3 linked regions of the Homo sapiens genome follow. The protein of the gene in region 1 interacts with the protein of each later gene in a pairwise test. Each region holds a gene or a part of one and is shown on either strand. Other genes may lie near its edges.

Region 1 (3,654 bases):
AGCACTCGGCACTCATTTTCCCTACTCTTCTGTCCAGTTAGTCATATTAATCTGAAATAACAATCCAGTAACTAAAAATAAATACTTCAACTAAACACTAAAGACTGAAAAAAAAAAAAATCACATGGCAGTAGAGAGGTTAGACCTTTTGGGATATAACCACCTTTTCTTCTGAGATGTTTAATCACTCAAAACTATAAACTATGAATAAGGACAGTTTCTTCTGTCAACCCCTTAACTCCCAAATTCACTATTTTATGACCCATAGTTAGTGACTCTGCTAAGAACATACCATGCTCTTTGCTACATTCTTACCTCTCCAATGAAATGTCCTAATTCTGAAAAAGCCCCGTTCAGCCAACTACACATCTCTCAGTCACCATCCCTCCCCTCCCCACTTCGGAACCTTCCAGGGCCTGCCCAACTGTCCACTTCCTCTACCCAGCCAGAGTTCATTGTTCTGGCTTGGTGTTTCCACAGGATACAAGACACAAAACCAAATTGTAAATGATTTTTAAAATTGCTTTCTTATTCTACTTCCCTGATCATGTTCTTACTCTGCTTAAAACCCTTTAGTAATCTTCACACAGAAGAGAAGTGCTTTTCAAATTACCAGTTGCTAACACAGCGTCATTAAATAAATTGAGTGGGTCACCATCATCAGTCTATCTTAAAAATAAAATAGAACGGAACAGAATAGAAACTACCAGAGTGTACCATACAAAGCAAGGGTATTATGTAGTGACATTTTATCATTTATATACAAGCATATTGGGTTGCAATGTAAAGATGCTTATCTTTCCAACGGGTCATAGCCAAAAAAACCTCTAAACACACTAAACTACAGGATAATCCAATCTTTCATTTGATCTACATGGTTCTCCAACCCAGTCCCTGCATAATAAGGCTCTAGACCTATCTCTTGCTACACCAAAGGGAGCTAGCTCAAGCAAACAAGCTTGTCATGCCAAACTCCTTTGCAGTTCCTCGTTTTAGTGGTGTCAATCACTGTTCTCTCTGCCTTGAATGCCCTCTTATTTGTCTAAGAGGCTCACTTGTACTCATCTTTCAGTATTTAACAACTATCACCTCCTCTACAAAGCCTTTTTATCCTTCCCTCAGCAGCTAATGCCCCCCCAACACACACTTTGTGTCTCCATAATGCCCTACATTATAGCTCCTACAAAATTTCATTGCACATTTTAATTTTAGGCTTGACTGTCTGCCCAACTTCCAAAGTATAAACTCACTAAGGGAAGGAGCACATTGTATTGGCCTTCCTATCAGCAGCACTGAGGTAAGTACACGCACTATAACAAAGGTTCAAAGTTGGTAAAATGAACAAATGACGAATTAAGGACTTGCATCTAAGTTGTCTATTGTCAGATATGATAGGGTGGTTATCTTTGCAATAAAACCCATTTATAGTGCTGGATCAAGATTTTCACATTTTTGCTACAACCCCTAGAGAGCAGAACCCTGCAGTTTGAGGCAGAAGGAGGTGTCAGCTTCCCATCTTTCAGCAAAGAGACTCAGTTTGGGCTGCAATGTAGCAGCACTCATTTCCATGCTTCTGGAAGTTATTTGGGGAAAGAGGGGAAGGAAGGACTCCAGAAGTTCCCATAGGCAGGTGAGATAAATCAGAAACAGCATTAACAGATTCCATTAGCAGGGAGAGCCCCATTTTATGTATAAGTAGCTCTTAATAAGGGAAGGGAGGGAAAGAATTCTTTACCATTGCTGATGGCACTAGGTTGCCAAAATGAGCTAAGTAAAAACAAAGGGTTTCATGAAATAAGTGGTTGAAGTTACTTGATTTCTGTTGCCTACTGTGATAGTTCTGAAATAGCTACTGACTCACTGCTGTCATTATGAGATACTATTTGGAGGTGGGGGTGGGGGTCATACCTAACAGGGGCTCCTCACTGAGGCTTCAAAACTTTTCAGAGACTTCATTTTACATACATGAATGCCTTAATTTTTAGGGGATCTGATACACCTATTTTACAAACCCATACTTTAGTTGCCTTCACTGCAATTAACAGTTCATGCAACATCCAAGATACTTTGACAGACTTTGCCAACTGTCAAGTTTCAGCTGTTCTTCTCCATTTCCAAAAAGTTCATAAACTACTATTAGGGGAGCCATAATTTTTTTCTGCCCAATCACTGATTTTATTAAAAATAATTCCTTTGCTTAGACTGCCCCTAGACTTGCAATAATTATCTACAATTAAGACGAAGATAAATCCTTATTATAACCTAACATTAGTTTAAAAAAAGAAGGTTGTAATATGTGAAACACTTTACCCACAGTATTAAATTTTAGATATCTATTACAGTAAGGTAATTATGGATTGCCAAGGTAAAGCTTTAAAAGCCATTTAAAGCCCTGTTTCCTTTTGCTTGAAATAGGTCCAGGCAGCTATGCTAATTCCACAAACATTTATTAGGCATAAATACGCATAAAGTGTGGAAACGTCAGCAAATGCCTTTGCTGTATGCTCTTCTACTTCCATCTACCCTTCCTCTCTCTACTCAAGTCACTATCAATGAGAAAGGGTCATAGCCCCAAATACAGGCTTTCCAAAAAAAAAAAAATAGCACCACAAAATGCTCGCTCCTTTTTCTCCTCAGTCCATATATAGAACTTTATTAACTAAAGGGCAGATACATTCATTTATAAACAAATTAATTATGCTAAGTGTCTAAATGCATGTTATGTGTGGTGCTAACTTTCCCACTTTAAACAACAGCCCCCTTAGTATTAAATTCATCCTGTCTCTTCAGATTCTAGGCGCTTCAGGAGCCGCGCCTTAAGGTGCAGACATGGCCAAGTCCAAGAACCACACCACACACAACCAGTCCCAAAAATGGCACAGAAATGGTATCAAGAAACCCGAAGCACAAAGATACGAATCTCTTAAGGGGGTGGACCCCAAGTTCCTGAGGAACATGCAGTTTGCCAAGAAACACAACAAGAAGGGCCTAAAGAAGATGCAGGCTAACAGTGCCAAGGCCATGAGTGCACATGCCAAGGCTATCAAGGCCCTCCTAAAGCCCAAGGAGGTTAAGCCCAAGATCCCAAAGGGTGTCAGCCGCAAGCTCAACTTGCCTACACTGTCCACCCCAAGCTTGGGAAGCATGCTCGTGCCCGCATTGCCAAGGGGCTCAGGGTGTGCTGGCCAAAGGCCAAGGACAAGGATCAAACCAAGGCCCAGGCTGCAGCTCCAGCTTCAGTTCCAGCTCAGGCTCCCAAAGGTGCCCAGGCCCCTACAGAGGCTTCAGAGTAGATATCTCTATCTGCCAACGTGAGGACAGGACTGGTGCGACCCCCCGCCAGGCTGCCATCTGCATGGGGCTGTGGGGCTGGGGTCCTCCTGTGCTATTTGTACAAAGAAACCTCAGGCAGGGAAAAAAAAATTCATCCTAAGCTTCCCTTGGTAAAATGACAGGCATTCATGCAGCTTAAAGGTTCTGGAAAACTGATTTTCTTCCATGATGCTACTACTCCACAGTCTAGACAAAATGCAGCCATCAACATGAAAAACTGCTGCTTGATTTTTTTTCCTCCAACATGTTTTAAACAGAGCTGCAGATGCTCAAGGGAAGCCATATTTCTAAGGTTTTGAACAGTAGTATTTTTCAGTATTT
Region 2 (3,654 bases), on another chromosome or scaffold:
TATTCCTGTAAAATAAAAAAGGTATCTAAAAGAGAAAAACATGGGATCCAAATAACAATAGATCTAACCCAGGAGAACAATGTGAAGTAATCCCAGGATGACAGCTGGGTAACAGGTCTACTAAGCTTCCCAAATTAGAAAAGGCAGGCCAAGACTCCGGAAAGTCTACCAAGACAAGCTGAATGGCTACAACATGAGAACCCATTATAATATTAAATTTTAAAAATAACTTCAATGAGCTTTCCTCATTCAACCAGGACTTTGTTATATTTCTTTTTTTTTTTTTTTTCCTGAGACGAAGCCTTGCTTTGTCACCCAGCCTGGAGTGCAATGACATGATCTTGGCTCACTGCAACCTCCACCTCCCGGGTTCAAGCAATTCTCCTGCCTCAGCCTCCCGAGTAGCTGGGATTACAGGTGCCCACCACCACGTCGGGCTAATTTTTGCATTTTTAGTAGAGACGGGGTTTCACCATGTTAGCCAGGCTGGTCTCTAACTCCTGACCTGAGGCGATCCGCCTGCCTGGGCCTCTCAAAGTGCTGGGCTTACAGACGTGAGCCACTGTGCCCGGCTGACTTTGTTATATTTCCTTTTTAAGGATCACAGGTTTAACAGAAGTGAAGTTTCTCTATGGCTCCACAGTACTTGGTTCTATAGTAACTAATACTCATGTCAACATACATATTTAAAAGAGTGGCTATTAGTACTCAATTTCTAGATTTTCCTGCAGAAGCACAGAAAACTTTAGAAGAGTTATAAAACATTATATAAATGCAATAAATCTTGCCAATGTAACAGTACTAACCAAAAACAAAGGCTGGGGCCGGGCTCAGCGGCTCATGCCTGTAATCCCACCACTTTGGGAGGCCAAGGGAGGGGGAGTGGATCACCGGAGGTCAGGAGTTCAAGACCAGCCTGACCAACATGGTGAAACCCTGTCTCTATTACAAATACAAAAATTAGCCAGGCATGGTTGCAGGTGCCTGTAATCCCAGCTAATCGCGAGGCTGAGGCAGGAGAATCGCTTGAACCCAGGAGGCGGAGGTTGCAGTGAGCCAAGATGGCGCCATTGCTCTCCAGCCTGGGCAACAAGAGCAAAATCCTGTCTCAAAAAAAAAAGGAAAAAAGAAAACAAAGGCTAGGAAGGGAGGAGGGAAAAACAAAGGCAAGGTTTGGCTTTTAAATCCCAAAAGGAAAGGGATCGGTGTTATATCTTTTTCTGAAAGACCAGGAAGTGAGGAAATATAGTTGTCTCTCAGTATCCGTAGGGGGCTGGTACCAGGGTCCCCTGCAGATACCAAAATCCAAGAATGCTCAAGTCTCTTACATGAAATGGCATAGTATTTGCATATAAGCTATACACATCCTCCTACGTACTTTACATCATTTCTAGTTTACAATACCTAATATATGGCAAATGCTATGAAATGGTTGTTATACTATACTGTTTAGGAAATACTGACAAGGAAAAAAGTCTGTACATGTTCAGTACAGATGTAACCAACCTTTTTTCCTGAATATTTTTGATCCAAGGTTGGTTGAAACCAAAGATAAGTCATTCACAGACATGAAGGGCCAAATATACTGTCTAAAAGTGATAGGTCAATAAACAGAAATTTATAATAAAAAGTTAAAAATAACAGCAAAATTAGGAACCAAAATGTAACTGATAGAAATCAAAGTCTAGGACAGGTGGAAAATGACCTAAATTTCTTATCTAGCAAAAAGTTAAGAAATATTTTTTTTGAGTTGAAAAAATATAGAGAGAAAGGCATGGTATATTTTTAGACTTTTGGAACAACAATAAAACCCTAAAAACAAACAAACAAAAATGGTTAAAAGCATAATGGGAGTGGGATTTAATGGAAAAGGGAAGACTTTCACTATTTTGAATTTTTTCAGTACTGTCTGCACAAATATTGCTTTCATTTAAAAAATATGAGAAATGGAAATGAGAGAATAAAAAATGTGACATCAGGTGATCCACCCGCCCCAGGCTCCCAAAATGCTGAGATTACAGCCTTGAGCCACTGCGCCCAGCCTATTTCACTTTAAGTTAAATATATTTTGTTTCGAACGTGCTTTCATAGACATGAGCTCAGGTGAAGCCTTGGAAATTTTAGTTGCATCCCATAATAGCTTTGAATCATATGGAAGATTCTGTTATATCTATCATAGCTATTAGTCTGTATCCCTGCCCAATAAATGGGGAGAGGAGCGTGATGAGGACCTCTAACCTCAAATCCCCCATTAACTTCCCATTCTCCTGCTGCATCCTAACAGCACTTGAAGTTATCAGGATGGTGACTCCTGGTAGGTGTAAGGAAACCAAACACTTAAGCCTTCTAGACAGAAGACCTTCTGTTACAGAATTACTTAGGCTTCTTAGCATGAAAGACCCAAATCTGATCTTCGAATTATGACACAACAAATTTACCCAGTTTGGTAAATGTTCTGGTTTACCCAGTATCTATTGATAAAGTTATCATCGCTGGCTCTCTCAGGCCAAATGCACAACCAGATTCTCACAGGCACATTCTCTCTCATTCTGAGACACACACAGAATAAATTCTCAATGCATGAAAAGAAGGGGATGAAGAATACAGAAGGGAGATCCTTAAAAAAAAAAAAAAAGTCACTACAATAGATCCCCCTCCTCCCCATTGAGTGATGAGAAGTAGGGAAAGTAGATTAACCAGGTTAAAGTGTAGCAGGGACCTTTTTGTGAATGACTGCCACCAGCAGACCACAATATTGGAAATATGCAACTGGAAGGGTAAAGAAAAAGCTGCTCTGGTTAAAGAAGAGGTAAGTGATTCCAGAAACTCAACTCCTGCTCTCCTCCATCCCTGTGCTTAGCTCTTCTACAGACTAGTTTGAGACAGGGTCTCCCTCTGTCGCTCAGGCTGGAGTGCAGTGTCAAGATCAGAGCTAGCTGTAACCCAGAAATCCTGGCTTCAAGCGATCCTCTTGCCTCTCAAAGCGCTGGAATTACAGGTGTGAGCTACCAAGCCCTGCCCTCCAGACCATTTTTGGAGGAGGAAGCAAGGCAGCAGTGACAGAAGTTCAGGCCATCAAATCTTATGATCTTGTCCCACATTAATTCACAACTAGTTAATTCAAAATCTGTTCATTCACAAACTAATCACTCCTTCAGCTCCTAACAACACAGATGCCATAAATAAGCAACTGGTAAATTGAGTAATTTCTTCTCTGGCACCTTGAAAGCTTCTAATATATAACACATTATTGTAACCATCTTTGAGCACACAGGCCACATTTTCCCTTTTCAGAGAACTTCCCCACTTCCTTTCCTTCAATCCATCAGGATAATCTGCTGATCAGGTTTGTGTGCTTTGACTCTAAGCCCCCGGCTATGGATGATTAGAACAGAAGTAGAGACCTAAACTCAGCCAATCAGATTCTCTCTCCCAGAAGAACTGGAAGAGAGGTGGGCTGGTATTCTGGTCACCCGGACTGAAAGGCAACAAGGTATAGAGCTGCCATATTCTGCTATGACCAGCCAAGATCTCTGGTACTGGCTCACGCAGCAGTCTCCAAAACTGAAATAGTCAGGCGACCCCCTTAACAGTTGCCTAATCGAATAACCAACCCTCCCCCCCCCAACTCCACCCCCGACACACAAGTCTGAA
Region 3 (3,654 bases), on another chromosome or scaffold:
GAATTGTGACCTGGATCAGCAGAGCATTGTTCACATTGTGCAGAGACCGTGGAGAAAAGGTCAAGAAATGAATGCAACTGGAGGCGACGACCCCAGAAACGCGGCGGGAGGCTGTGAGCGGGAGCCCCAGAGCTTGACTCGGGTGGACCTCAGCAGCTCAGTCCTCCCAGGAGACTCTGTGGGGCTGGCTGTCATTCTGCACACTGACAGCAGGAAGGACTCACCACCAGCTGGAAGTCCAGGTAATTGGAATGCTCTAAGATTATTAAAGCATTTTGTTTGTTTGTTTAGTGCAGTCTGCATGGAGCATGGCCTCACCGGGTGCATATTTAGTTTATGATACGTTTTGGATTGGAGTCTCTAATTCACTACAAGGAGACATCACTGTAGGTGGAGTACTTTGATGTAACATTTGAGAATGCATTTATTGTAAGTACTATGAAACAGGTTTTCATATTGAGATTAAATATAAGAGATATGTTTCTAGTGATGTAGAAAAATTCTAAAAAGCAGAAAGAACTCTAAAGCTAATCGAGCCATTTGTAGTTTCTAAAGCCAGATATGCCAATGGCAATGACATCCTTAGTGTGAAAGGACTCTTCCTTCTCTCTATGCTACCACCCATTTCAAAATGCTTTTCTTTGGCAAAGATTGTTATTGTTTAGTTATTTTAAAAAAATTAATATGTGCCTCTTAGTCTTTTATTCTCTAATCTAAATAGTCAAAGGTGTAATAGAATTAATTTTTACTGTGTTTGACAGAAGACACAAAATAATCACAATGACTTTACAGGGTAGAAGTTGATTTTCCTCCCACATACAATAGATCCTGGCAGTTGTGGGCTGGTATGGCCTTCACAGTGTCAGAAAGTTCTGGGGCCTGCAAGATGGAAGCCTAACATAATAAGAAATGCCTCCTACTAAACTTACTAAATAAAATTTAAGGAACTTAAAAATTTTCGATGATCTTGCAAAAAATAAAAAAAGATAATTTCCAAGGACAAGTGAAAATGTAGAAACAACATCTTTAAATACAGGAGTAGATAAGCCCAGAAAGTAAGGCATTAACTGATGCTCTGGTGATCTTGAGATGATTGTGGGAGGGAAAGAGGCTCTGCTTCATGTGAGCTGGGCACCTCAGGTCTGGAAAGAAAAATTGAGAAATGGAAATAAATGTCAAAAATGGGGAAAAATGAGATAAATCTAAACCCCTGCAATACTCTTGTGACCAGAATAATATATTAATATAAATATCGAACCCAAGCCCATAACAATTCTGACGTTTCAACCAGAGTATGTATAAGATCATTCTGACACTGACACCTCTAGAGAATACTCATGCTCCAACATTATAAACCAAACAATGGAAAATTCCACCTTGAGTGTGTATGAGACCAGAATATGCCACCCCAAAATATGCCACTTTAGCATAAGTATTATTTTAAGCTGATTATTTTGAGAAACAGTAGACACAGGAAAAGCTCTAAAAACAGAGTAGAAGTGACCCTTTTGTAAGGGAAATTTATATCTACCAAGGAAGTCTCCATTTGTAAGGGTGTCTCCCTCTCCTTACTAGGATGAGGAGGACAGAGTCTCTGGAGACTCTGATCCTTGAGAAGGCACCAACTGAATAATCTGCCTAACAAACCTTACTCTTGTCTTCTCCTCTCCCTTTCTTCCTTTGCCATTGAAGATGGTATTCAAGCCTGAATTTTAGGCACCTCTTTGAGATTTATGCATTTTTTCTGGGTGTCTCACATGTACAGTTGTCCCTCCCCATCAACAGGCAATACGTTTCAAATCCCCCAGTGTACGCCTGAAACCAAAAATGGTACCAAACCCTATATTTACTATGTTTGTTCCTGTACAACTGTATAACAGATTGGATTTATTATGTTAGGAGACCTATCTACTAGTTCTTTAATTTGATTTCCCAAAATAAAATTCTTACTAAAAATAAAAAAATCACATTGTTTAGAGCAAAATTAAACCTTTACTTATTATCTGAATATTAAAAACAATTTGAGCACAAGAATCCTGTTGTGTACATATTCATGTTCTTTAATACATTTCCTAGTGCATCTGGCTCTACTCTCTTATCAACCATATTCATCTGAAAATTTTAGTCTTCTTATTTTGTTTTATCATAAAATTGCCCTTGGTCTTCTCCAGAATTTTCTTTTATGAGAATGAACTTAGAATTATTGACACTTTCAACTGACTCTCTCTCTCTCTCTAGACCATAATATTTTAAGAAAATATAGTATTCTCTCTATATAGGGTCTGAAGTACCAGTAGGCACTGAGAAAATTCTGCTAAATGTCTAATATTCTCTTTATATTTTTAAATTGAAATGTGTGATTATTTCAACCCAAACAATAGAGAATAAATTCTAGTAAATTTATGGAATGTGGTAAATGACAGCAGCCTTCAGAGTACTGTATGATCTATGATGATGCGCTGTTTCACCTTGACTTTCCACTCATGTCTGAGTCACATCTAACCTCTGATCACCCTGTTTCTCATTTACCCCTCTGTCTTGTGGCCTGCCAGCCTTGTGCTTTTGGCAGGCTAGGGACTGGCTCAGGCAACTCTACATGGTGCAGTTGGGGGCTGCAGGGTTGCCATCCTAACACTTCTCCCTGCACCACTACACACTGGGGGCAACTTCCTGGCACCCTACATGCTGCTACTAAAAGGCCTCTGTAAAGATATGTTGCATCTGTAAAGATTGGGAAAAGAGAGATGGTGCATCCCAGGTCAACTTTCAGATTTAACTCTGTGTTAAACTAACAGCTAAACTACAAGTAATCCTCTCCTGCTCATTAGAACTGGAGGGAATCCTTTTCAGAACTCTTAGGACTCTCCCTTATTACTTGCTATTTTGTACTCCAGTTCTGACTTCACCTTTTAATCTCTTTGAGGATGGAGTTTTTGTCCAATTAACTGTAGTTTTCCCCAAAATCTCTTAGAAGAGTGGTGATACATGTTTACTAAATTGCTTCAAATTGTAAACATAGTCAGTCATTCAACAGAACTCCTGTGCATTTAGCTTTTAGAGCGAATGCTTTATTTAAAATTATACAGAGAAATTGAGATTTCATCTCTTCAAATGTCTTGGTTCATTCTTGGTTTGAGTTAAGACTGAATGGAATGATTTGAAATGACTATATGCAAACAGTATGCCTATATGATTATTTTTCTTCACTAAAAATGATAGCGTAAAGTTACTAGAGCAGAGATTCACAGACTCTCATGTGCAGAATTATCTTGCATGTTTTTCCATGTTTCTTTGATGGCCAGAATGGCGAGAAAAAAAATCTTCTTTCATTCTTTTTCTGTGACCAGAAATTTTGATGTATTTGTCTGGGGGTAGAGGCCCCAAAATGTTGGTACTGACCATACTCTGAGAAACTCTGCCCTATGGCTAAGGTTTTCCAGCCTTACAATTATGGATCCTACCTGTTGTTCTCACGGAACAATCGGACGCTGGGTGGGAGAACAGAGGCAGGTCGGTGAGAGGTGAACACACCAAGCCAATCACAGCAGCCTGAGACCATTCCTCTTTACGTACTTCACATATTAAACACATAAAACATCTATCATTTGAAAAGATGAAAAAAATCCTTGGTTATACAATGTTTGAAAACCTGTG

What was found.
Region 2: the proteins of HOMER1 (region 1) and PIAS2 interact in binary tests that used the Homo sapiens proteins (3 or more experiments, as listed by UniProt).
Region 3: the proteins of HOMER1 (region 1) and PRKN interact in binary tests that used the Homo sapiens proteins (3 or more experiments, as listed by UniProt).

What each region holds. Positions count from the first base shown.
Region 1 is NC_000005.10:79,507,605-79,511,258, forward strand, and holds part of HOMER1 (homer protein homolog 1), read right to left. Parts: intron 3,414-3,654; exon of another isoform or gene 2,783-3,413; intron 1-2,782. UniProt on the Homo sapiens protein: Postsynaptic density scaffolding protein. Binds and cross-links cytoplasmic regions of GRM1, GRM5, ITPR1, DNM3, RYR1, RYR2, SHANK1 and SHANK3.
Region 2 is NC_000018.10:46,910,942-46,914,595, forward strand, and holds part of PIAS2 (E3 SUMO-protein ligase PIAS2), read right to left. Parts: intron 1-3,654. UniProt on the Homo sapiens protein: Functions as an E3-type small ubiquitin-like modifier (SUMO) ligase, stabilizing the interaction between UBE2I and the substrate, and as a SUMO-tethering factor.
Region 3 is NC_000006.12:162,259,113-162,262,766, reverse strand, and holds part of PRKN (E3 ubiquitin-protein ligase parkin), read left to right. Parts: intron 1-1; coding exon 2-242; intron 243-3,654. UniProt on the Homo sapiens protein: Functions within a multiprotein E3 ubiquitin ligase complex, catalyzing the covalent attachment of ubiquitin moieties onto substrate proteins. Substrates include SYT11 and VDAC1.